Linked DNA regions of Homo sapiens: region 2 is linked to region 1. Evidence: fine-mapped expression QTL. A gene starts in region 1. The other region holds a variant in brackets. All regions are shown on one strand. Distances are from middle to middle.

Region 1 (5,385 bases):
GTGAAACAGAGTCAAGGGAGGTTAAGAAAAAGCAAGTGTTTCCATATCACATCTTCTTCCTGCTACAAGCCAGGCTAACAGAACCAGAACTGTTTCTCTCTTCTCCAGCTTCCAATTCTCCTTCAAATTAAACTGAGACCCTCCCCAAACTATTGCTCTTTGCAAAATTAAATACTCCAGTGTCTGAACAAAGCTAAACTAAAAAGGACACTTTAAACGAATAACCTTTAAAAACAAACTAAGTCAGCCTTCAAAATAATCCCCTTTGGCCACACAGGACAGCCCAGGGGACAGGTGCAGGGCATGCCTTCCTAGAGGCTGTCTCCTCCTCCATGAATCTGACCTTTTCCAGCTGGTAGCTCTGGCACCTCACAAATCAGTTGTCAGTAGGCCGAATGCCTGCTTTCCCATCTGCACTTTCCAAATGGCTCCTGATGCCAACGGCTGAGATATGACCTGGCTCTCTGATGAGAACATGCTTCCCAAGTGACATGCCAGGTTTCCTGGAAGCATTTCTAAATGCATTCTCTGAGCTCCCTCCCTCACCTCCCAGTCACGGTTCATTCTTCCTTCCCTGCACTTCCTAATGCCACCTCCTGATCCTATTCCTCCAACGTCATGTCCCTTCAGTCCCAAATCCTTACCCACTTTCATCAACCATTGACCCTTGTCCTGCCTTACATCCCAACTTCAAATCCAAAGGGCATAGTTCTGGCTAGGTGTGGTGGCTCACGTCTGTAATCCCAGCACTTTGGGAGGCGGAGGTGGGTGGATCACCTGAGGTACGGAGTTCGAGACCAGCCTGGCCAACATGATGAAACCCCATCTCTACTAAAAATACAAAACTTAGCAGGGCATGGTGGCAAATGCCTGTATTCCCAGCAACTCGGGAGGCTGAAGCAAGTGAATTGCTTGAACCCAGGAAGCAGAGGTTGCAGTGAGCCGAGATCACACCATTGCACTCCAGCCTGGGCAACAGAGCAAGACTCTGTCTCAAAAACAAACAAACAAATAAACAAAAAAGCAAAGAGCATAGTTACAACATTTTGGAGCTGGTTCAAAGTGATCTTTCTGAGGCCTACCTGCAGGCAGGTCGGTCATGGCCTCTTCCCTTGCCTTCTTCAGCTTCTCCCTGACCCAGGGAAACTCCTGTAGGGAATCTAGGAATGTATCAAATGCTTTAGGGCCCCTGGAAGGTAGGATATCCAGCAGGAGCATTGTTTTCCGGAGGCCTGTGGTTTGAGCATTGATTTCTTGAATATGGTTTTCCGTCAAGATTCCTTCCTGGTAGAGGTACTGAAGAACCAGTCCCTCCACCAATACCTCTGCACCCAGCTCCAGGCGAAGTGAGCGGAGTACTTGTTTGTCTCTGGCCTCCATTTCTCCCTGGAAAGAGCCAAAATCACAGCTCAAATTACAGACATGTTGATGTGGCCCTAAAGACAGTGTCACTGCAATGTAAGTTCCTTCAGGTCAAGCACATCTTTAAACCATAGCAGACTGCCAGGTCATGGTATTTAATTCACTGATTAAGCCAAGCCAGGTTAATTTTGAATGTTTCCTAACATAATGAACAACAATGAAGATGAATCATCTTTTCTGTTTCTGCTTTTCACACAATGGGGTCCCAGCTCAATTCCTCGTTCAATAAAGAAATTTGGAAAAAGAAAAAAAAAAAGTGGGTCAGAGACCCTTCTGAACAAGCAATTTTTATCTGAAGATTACAGAGCAGCACTAATTTTAACACGCTGGAGAAGAAATGGTGGTTTTATTTTCACATTGCCCTCATCAGACCTGCACCACCACCACCAAGGCAGAAACTGCCAAGGTGGACGCAGGTCCCCTTTTTTTGATCACAAGTATTTGCAAAACCTGATCAGTAATAGGAGTGCAGGACAGAAATCAGCAGGTTCAGAATTTAAGGCTCTTTTCGCTAAAAGTCCTCTACACGATCACCTTTAAGAAAATTGTTGTTTGTGCCCAGTCTACAATAAACTTTACACAATATACAGTCACAGACTCCATTCCTTCCCACTAAGAATTCCGAATCTCCAGCACAACACTGTCGTGGCCGCACATGCATGGGACATTTTATGGGATTTTTTTCTTTCAAAAAAAGCACACACCCCAGCACTGGTCAGTAGCCAGGCACGATTTGAAGGTGCAGTTCCACCACCCCTGCACCAGTGTGCTGTGGCTTGGTTGTGTGTAAGGCAGTGAAGGTTAAGTGACCGGGAAGGCAGGCAGGGATGACAGATGGGGCTTCAGACACACCCGGGCAGTACGACCACGGCTAGGCGACACCCGATCCCACACTCCCCCTCGCAACCCTGTAAAGTTCAGGAGGTGACAGGTGAGGAGGGGAGGTGTTCACGTTTGGCCGTGAGCGCCCATTGGGAACTATTTAAAAAGGCTCTGCTTCGGCCGCTGAAACCCTTGTATCAAACAGGAAGACTACGGGCGGTTTCTGCGGCAACTTGACCCGCTAAAGAGGGAGTGCTGGGAATGAACTAAAGAGCGGACCAAGGGGAGAGCGGGCCTCCGGCACTGCCGCAGCCACCCAGCCTTGGCCCGGATCGGAAATGCGGAGCAAGTTAGCGGGGCGGGGAAGCCCCCGCAGGGCCCAGGTCGCAGACGCTACAATGCAGGACTTTCAAAGAAAGATGGATTCCTGTTACTTACGTCTGCAACCACGTATCTTTGGGGCGGGGGAGAAAAACTGCAACCGGAATCCTGACTGTTAGGGAACCTGCCCCATAAGCACCATCTTTGTTAATGGCGAAAACCCTAAACAGGAAGTGTTGACACCATCTTTGTTGAGGGCAAGTACAGGAAGTGCTGTCGCCATTTTTATTGAGCGTTCAAGGGTCGGATCGAAGCTCTTCCCGCCATGCTTACTGTGGGTAAACAATTCAATAGCGGGGAGATGGACAACCGTAGTGTCACTTAAAGGGTATCTAAGTAATGGAGTAATTGAATCATTGCATTTTAACACAGTAACTCCATCAGGGCCTCGCACACAATTGACCTAACAGAGAGGCAGGTCAAAAGCCACCCTAGTAGAGAAGCCTTCTCTGACCTATCTGATTAAAACGGCAAGACAGCTGCGCTCATTTCCTGCACTCCCCATTAACCAGCTTTATTTTTTACGCATCACCATCTTATTAAAACTTTTCACTTATTCATTTGTTTATCCTTCTGCTTCCCTCCATTAAAATGCAAGGTCATTTATTTATATCAAGGGTTCCTGCCCGCAAAGAGTTTACAAATCTGTCAGTCAGGATTTCATTGCAGCACTCAGCTAGTTACTCCTAGTCAGAAAGGGATTCGTTAGGGGGAATTGGGGACATTCGAAATCATTGGAAAGGCTGGAGAAGGGCTGAGCTGAACATCCATGGATGACTACCTAGATAAGATTGCTGATTGTGGCTGCTGCCCACAATCAGGAAGATGGCGTCAGGAAGTTGCCATGCCTGGTCCCCAACCTCCTCTCAACACCGACAGAACAATTAACAGGACACTGGAACAGTGCTGCAAAAAACGGTGGTCTCCACGGCTGCATTTGCCAGCAGCAAGAAAACAGCACCTGCAAATCTTGCTTTGCTGCGTGCCATTGGTGAGACCAATCTGACATGCAGAATATTAGCAGCAAGGATGTCTAGAGCATGTAGTTGGTAGCTTTCCAGCTTGTGAAACACAAAAAGGTATAGTAAATGAGGGAAGGCCTGACACTTAAAGCCAATCTACTGCATCCACCACATTTTCAATGTGGAAAGCAAGAAAAAATGCATGACCCAAATACAGAGAAACACAGCAATGCCAAATTGGGTGTCCTTCCTCACATTCCTTTGTGAAGCGAGGCAGGCGATCAATAAATACATTCATTGATTCATTTTTAAATCAATTGGATGATACATACAGAAAGTCATATGCTTACTAAAAATCAGTTGACAGTACAGGGGGAAAAAACTCCTAAAATATTATTTCTGCAAAGGTTTTCACAGCCAAACCCTTTGGTGGAAAATGAAAATATCTTTGTTAAGCAAATCAATGGAGAACAGTTCTGAACCTCCCTCCTCAAAACCTTCTAAAAATTGTATTCAATTTACAGCATTACTATGCCAGTTACCATTTTACTACACCGTTAATGACAGTATTTTTACCTATGTGGCAAGTATTATTATTATTACAGTCATGCATTGCATAACAATATTTGGGTCAATGACAGACTGCATATATGATGGTGGTCAGAGCAATAGGCTATGCTATATGGCCTAAGTATGTAGTAGGCTATACCATCTAGGTTTGCATAAGTACATCCTATTTTGTTTGCACAATGACACATTTTTCACAATGTATCTCCACTGTTACAACTGTTTTAGCATTTGCATGTATAAAGACTGTGGAATCAGAATGGTCAATTGTCTTAGGCAAAATCTCACAGCTAATATAGAGCAAAACTTGAAGTCTAATGAAGTTTCTCTGATTTCATGCTCTTTCCAATACACCATACAACCTTGTATAGTGAAGAGTTTATTGTTCTAATGATAGCCAAATATTATTTGCAAATCATCCTGTTGCCACCTCCCATTCTTGATACTCTTGAGTTCCAGGTGCTCTCTTTTCTCTCTCCCTTTTCCCCTTTTGCTTGAGAATCATTGTCCTTTCCTCAGCAAGATTTCCCATCTGTTCATAGACAAATGTTAGCACCATTCTTTGTCTTCATCCAGATAAAGTGCAGACCACTTGCAACACTGCCAAGCGTTGAAGTTTACAGGTTAAACATCCCTAATACAAAAATTTGAAATCCAGAATCCTCCAAAACCTGCCTGAGAGTGGTGGCTGACACCTGTAATCTCAGCATTTTGGGAAGCCAAGGCAGGCAGATCGTTTGAGCCCAGGAGTTCAGGGCCAGCCTGGGCAACATAGGGAAATCCCATCTCTACAAAAAATACAAAAAATTAGCCAGCCATGCTTGTGTACGCCTGTAGTCCCAGCTTCTCAGGAGGCTGAGGTGGAGAATCAATTGAACCCGGGAGGTGGAGTTTGCAGTGAAACAAGATCATGCCACTGCACTCCGGCCTGGGCGACAGAGAGAGACCCTGTCTCAGAAAAAAAAAAAAAAAGAAAGAAAAAGAAATGCTCCAAAACCTGAAGCTTTTTGGGTGTCAACATGACGCCACAAGTGGAAAATTCCACACCTGACCTTATGTGATGGGTCTCAGTCAAAACACAAACCTTTGTTTCATGTGCAAAATTATTTAAAATATTGTATAAAGTTACTTTCAGGCTATGTGTATAAAAAGTATATATGAAACATAAGTTTTGTGCTTAAACTTGGGTCCCATCCCCAAGTTACCTCATTATGTATATGCAAATATTCCA
Region 2 (5,385 bases), 160 kb before region 1:
TTAGTTATAAATAATAAGCATTTCTAGGGAAGAGATAAAACTAACATTATTTTCAGACAATATGACCTAATACATAGAAAAATATCAGGATTAGCAGATAATCTATTAGAGTAAGAGGACTGAGCAAAATTGCCAGATACAAGATCAACTTAAAGCAAAAAACTACAAAGCAGCATTTCAACACTCTTACAATAATCAAATACAAAACATAATAAAAATACAATAAGCAATGAGAAGGATAAAGGATCTATGAAGTTAATAAAGACTGTATAAGACCTTCATGGGGAAAATTTTAAGCCTTTATTAAAAGACATAAAGCAAGATCTGACTAAAAGGAGAGTCCCTGTTGTGCTAGATGGGATGACATTGTTATAATATAAAGATGCCAATTCCTATTGTGACAATTAAAATTCCATAATGGGGAAAGAAGAGGCTTTCCCCAAACTGAGGAGAACTAGCTAATTACAGAGGAAAAGAAAACTGGCCTAGAGCATCACACCATGAACAGTGGTGGATCCCATGGAGATAAAGTCCCAAAGGTAAAAGGTAAAACTATAAAGTTCATGGAAAATAAGGCAGGAGTATCTTTATGGCCTGTGGTCAGAAGTGGTTTTTAAAATTAATCTCCCAAAGGTAAATTTTTTATATCAAAATTACGGATTTCTGCTCAATGAAGGAGACGTGATCCAAGCTGATGTCTAAGACCAAGGCTAATGTCTAAGACCAATAAGGGAAACACTATCTAGGCTGGGTAAGGTGTTTCTGAAAACCAACAGCAAAGGTAAGAACCTCCACAGGAAACAGAACAAAGGTATGAACAGGTGATTCGAATTAGAGGAAACACAAAAGCGAGCACATAAAGAGATGCTCAAATGCAGAAATTTAAGAAACAAATGTAAACAACAATGATAAAGCACTTTATATGTATAGAAATCTAGACAATACCAAGCTTAGGCTGGGACGTGATGTAGAGAACGTTGTTCACCGCCAATGGAAATAAAGATCGGACAGTCGTACTGGCCAGCAAGTTGGCAGTGTGGGTAAAATTGAATGTACTTTCCAATCTTGTTCTGTTAGACGTACCCAAGAAAAGTTCTAAAAAAGACCTGTAAGGGACATGTATTAGGTTGTTTGTGTAAAGCTTCGTTATTTGTGCTAGCAAATACACGTATATCTTATAATCCAGAAACCCTCTTTTGGGAGATATAGATATAGGTATAGATATCTCCATCTCAGGAAAATTCCTACACAGATCCATGAGGGGTCACTATGAGGTTGTTTATATGAGGTAATACTGTCGGAAGAAAGGAGTTGGAAGCAATCTAAAAGCTCATTGCTGGGGGAAGAGATATAGAAATACAAAACAGCACATAGGGAATACTGGCAGAGTTAGAGGGGATGGACTAAATGCAGTGGAGAGCAAAAAATGTAAGGAAAAGAATCAGGTCTATACAAATGCAAATTAAGAATATATGTCCAGGCCGGGCACCCATGGATCACGCCTGTAATCCCAACACTTTGGGAGGTCGAGGCGGGTGGATCGTTTGAGCTCAGGAGTTCAAGGCTAGCCTGGGAAATGTGGCAAAACTCCATCTCTACAAAAAAAAAAATTAATACAAAAAATTAGCCAGGTGTGGTGGTGCACACCTGTAGTCCCAGGTGCTCGGTGGGGAGGCTGAGGTGGGAAGATCACCTGAGCCAGGGAGGTCAAGGCTGCAGTGAACCCTGATTGTGTCACTGATCGAACTTCAGCTTGGGTGAAAGAGCCAGACTCTGTCTCAAAAAACAAAAAAGAATGTATGTCCAAAACACCACTTACAAAAACACACACAAATAAAGGAATACATATCAGTCAGAATAGTTATCCTTATCTATGAGAGGGAGGGGGAACAAGAGTGAGTATATGAATGGAAAAGGAAGAAGCTTTTCACAGACCAATTAGTGAAGTAGACCATAAACTGATGAGCGCAAAGGAAAAAAAAAAAAAAGAGAGAGAAAGAGAGAAGCAAGGGAGGAAGGGAAGGAAGGAGGGAGGGAGAGAGTGAGAGAGGGAAGGTCAAGAGTCACTCTGAACCCAGCTGTCTCACGGTACCCCTGGGGCTGACAACATCCAGTTTCTCTGTAGCTAATGTGAGTGGAGTGAGTGGAGTGAGTAGAGTGGTGGAGTGGAGGAGGTCAGGGGTAGGGCGGGGCTGTTCCAGGCTGGAAAAACTAACCTGATCAGCCACCTCCCAGGACTCATGAATTAACCCTGGTCCCTGAGTACAAAGGCTCTGCAGAAAAATCCCTTTGGCTGAGAGACTGACTGCCTGGAAAAAGAAAAAAAAAAAAAAAAAAACCTCAAAAGGAAAACTAATTAGAACCCCTTGTTCTGCTTGTTCTGATAGATAATCACAGAGAACAATTTGGTCCTCACAGAGAGATGGAGAAATCATGTTTAGTCTTTCTAAAACCGATTTCCAGGATGATTAAGTGAAACCCACTCCAAAGAACAAGGTTATGTTGCAAAATACAAATAAATCCCATTTATTGTAATGGAAGACTTGATTTGACTATCGAGTCCATGGAAGGTCAACAATAAAACTGTTAGCAATAATTGAGCTCGCACTGAATTAAAAGGTGGGTGGTAGGGTGGACACAGCTCTGGGCTAAGAATTAGGAAGCCTGGGTAGTATAAATTTGAATCTGCTACTACCTAGCCGTATAGCTTGGGATAAGTCATTTGGCCTCTCTTAGACTGCTTTCTTCTTTGTAAAAGGTAAAACCAGATGACTTCTAAGGCTTTATTTCAATAAAACATATTATCTTTTTTAGAAGTGATTTTGTTATTTTCAACAGATCTTATGATTTTTGACTTCTCATTAAATCAAACCATTTATTGTTGTATCACTTTTCTTTACACATTTTCTAAGATAGAAACAACCCTCGTGGGCCTTTAGTAATGATTTTTGCTTATTTGTTTCTGCCTTTTAAAGATCACACATGGAAACCGCCCGGTGGCTCATGCCTGTAATCCCAGCACTTTGGGAGGCCGAGGCGGGTGGAT[C/G]ACCTGAGGTCGGGAGTTTGAGACCAACCTGGCCAACATGGTGAAAACCTGTCTCTATTAAAAATACAAAAATTAGCTGGGCGTGGTGATGCACGTCTGTAATCCCAGCTACCCGTGAGGTTGAGGCAGGAGAATTGCTTGATCTCAGGAGGTGGAGGTTGCAGTGTGCAGATCGCACCACTGCACTCCAGTCTGCGCGACACAGCGAGACTCCCTCTAAAAAAAAAAACAAAAACAAACAAACAAACAAACAAACAAAAACGTGAAATGAATATCTGGTACAGTAAATTTTCAAAACAGTAAAAACAATTAATGTTACAGTTTGCTGGGCCATTCATTTCTCTCACATGGACCAGACACAGCTCCACCAATTTGTCATTCATCCGGTTCCTTGAACACAGCAGCCAGCTGCGAACCAGAGAGCCTTGCACGAGCTGTTCCCTTTCCCTGGGACACTCTTTCACTGACCCCTTCACCAAATATAACTTCTCAGGGCAGCTGCCCTGACTGCCCTATTCCAAACTGCAACTCCCATTCCACTGTCATTCCCTTTGTCCATAAATCACCTTGTAACGTGTGATATATTTTATAGATGTGCTGTATTTACTGTCGCTGCCTGCCCCCAACCCTACACACTCATGCCTGCTGGAATGTAAGTGTCTCGCAGGCAGGGGAGCTTTGTCCATCCTGCTCAGTGATGTACTCCAGGCACCCAGGGTAGTGCCTTGCACATAGTAGGCACTCACTACATATTTGCTGGATGAGTGAATGAATGAAAAGGAATGATTCATTACAATGATAACATACTCACTTAGCTTTATTCTCTATAGCTACAGTATTACCAAGTGCTTCTACTTTTAATTTACTTTGTATTTAAAACCAGAGAAATTACATTGCATAATCTGAGGGTGAACAGAAAATTAAAAAGAGAGGAAACTCCATAATGGTAAAATATTGTCAAGGTTAGATGTGGGCTGTTACCTCTTTTTATGCCAAACTGGGCTACAATGAACTCCCCTTTCCCACATCCATGTTTCATTTGAAAAGAGAAAGACAGGCAAGCCCCAAGAAGGCTTCTGGGTAAATATGGCAGAGTGAGGCCTGACCCCAGAGTCTCCATCCCCTAACACCTAAGGGAATGAAGAAAAGGTAATAAAATAAAAATGAAGCCCATCAAAAAAGATGGCAGAGCCACTTTCCAATTCCTACCTTCCTGAAGCTCTATCAATTATTCACCCAAACTCAACTCTAAGAGATTCACTCTACTATCCCCAAATCTAAAGAGGAAAAAATTAAGTGGGTTTCTTACATTTTTTTCTCCTCTAATTTCAGCAGAGTGGAGATGGTAACTGCTACATGAAGCGACAGGAGATAAAAAATGTGGACAACGAGAACTAACTGTCCCTGGCAGAATGAGAAGACATTCTGCATGTTCTCAGGAGAGATTGCACAGCACAGGCATTATAGGGTGGCCTACGCGTAAACAACTTGGTGAGCTCACTTTCCTGCCCTGCTCTTTTGCTTACATGTGCCTATAGCCTGAAGAAAAGTGAACAGGACAGGAAATACCTGGTCCTCAAGGGGTAATACACAGGGGTCAGAAGGGTGTCAAGGAGAAATCACCCCAGTGGATCAGAGCCCCAAAGGCCACAGTCACCCAAACATATGCAAGATGGAATGAAACAGCATGGCAAGTGAGTAACATATCAGAGTAACACATGAATTAAAAATAGAGCATTATGTGGAAGAAAATGGGCCAAAACCAAAAATCTACAATCTCCAAGGAATAAACTAATAAGTGAGAAACACCAAGGAATAGAATTAACATGGCTCAAAATTATTTATATCCTAGGAAGCCTTCAGGTCATCAAGATAAAAGGCAAAACTTACAGAGAAAAATGATAGACATAGAGGAGAAAAAATATAATCCATCAGAAAGATTAATGAGTATTCCTGAAGTAGAGAACCCAGGCCAAAGTGTTTAAAGATCCAATACAAGAAAATATCCCTAAAATGAGCAAGCAACAGAGCTCTAAGTCAAAAGAGCATACTTCGTTTTTACAAAAAATGAATATGAAACAATTAACTGAAACATGTACCCTGGTTCAATAATTAAATTTCCAGTTCCAAGAAATAATTCTTCAAGCAGAACAAGCCAAGTTGCCTACAATGAGGGGAAAGTCAGTCATTGTTTTCAAAAGTATTTTAAATGCAAAAGATAAAGAAACAATTCCTCCAAAATTCTAAGGGGAATAAAGTATAGTGCATAAATATTACTCCTAGGGATGATATTGAAGTATAAAGGTAAGGTAATCATCAGATATTCTTGAACATGAAAA

Direction of the effects. Alleles are on the strand shown, and positions count from the first base shown. SD is a standard deviation of normalised expression in the study named.
With allele C in place of G in region 2, the expression in monocytes after interferon gamma of the gene that starts at base 2,780 in region 1 is higher (moderate effect, 0.58 SD a copy in Fairfax 2014).

What was found. PIP is the estimated chance that this variant, and not a neighbour inherited with it, causes the effect.
Region 2: its variant is the best candidate, but not a certain one, in a credible set for the expression of CRADD in monocytes after interferon gamma (Fairfax 2014, PIP 0.63).

The regions. Positions count from the first base shown.
Region 1 is chr12:93,674,770-93,680,154 of GRCh38, reverse strand. It overlaps CRADD (CARD and death domain containing adaptor protein), which reads right to left and starts at 2,780. Exons shown (of 3, transcript NM_003805.5): 1 at 2,683-2,780; 2 at 1,083-1,386. The coding sequence starts at 1,380. RefSeq lists enhancers at 278-1,092, 1,909-2,723, 2,696-2,935, 2,724-3,539.
Region 2 is chr12:93,835,168-93,840,552 of GRCh38, reverse strand. All of the region lies in intron 2 of CRADD (CARD and death domain containing adaptor protein), which reads right to left. Among named protein-coding and RNA genes, the nearest start is that of CRADD-AS1, 100 kb to the right of the region's middle. The variant C/G (reference allele first, on the strand shown) is at 3,047.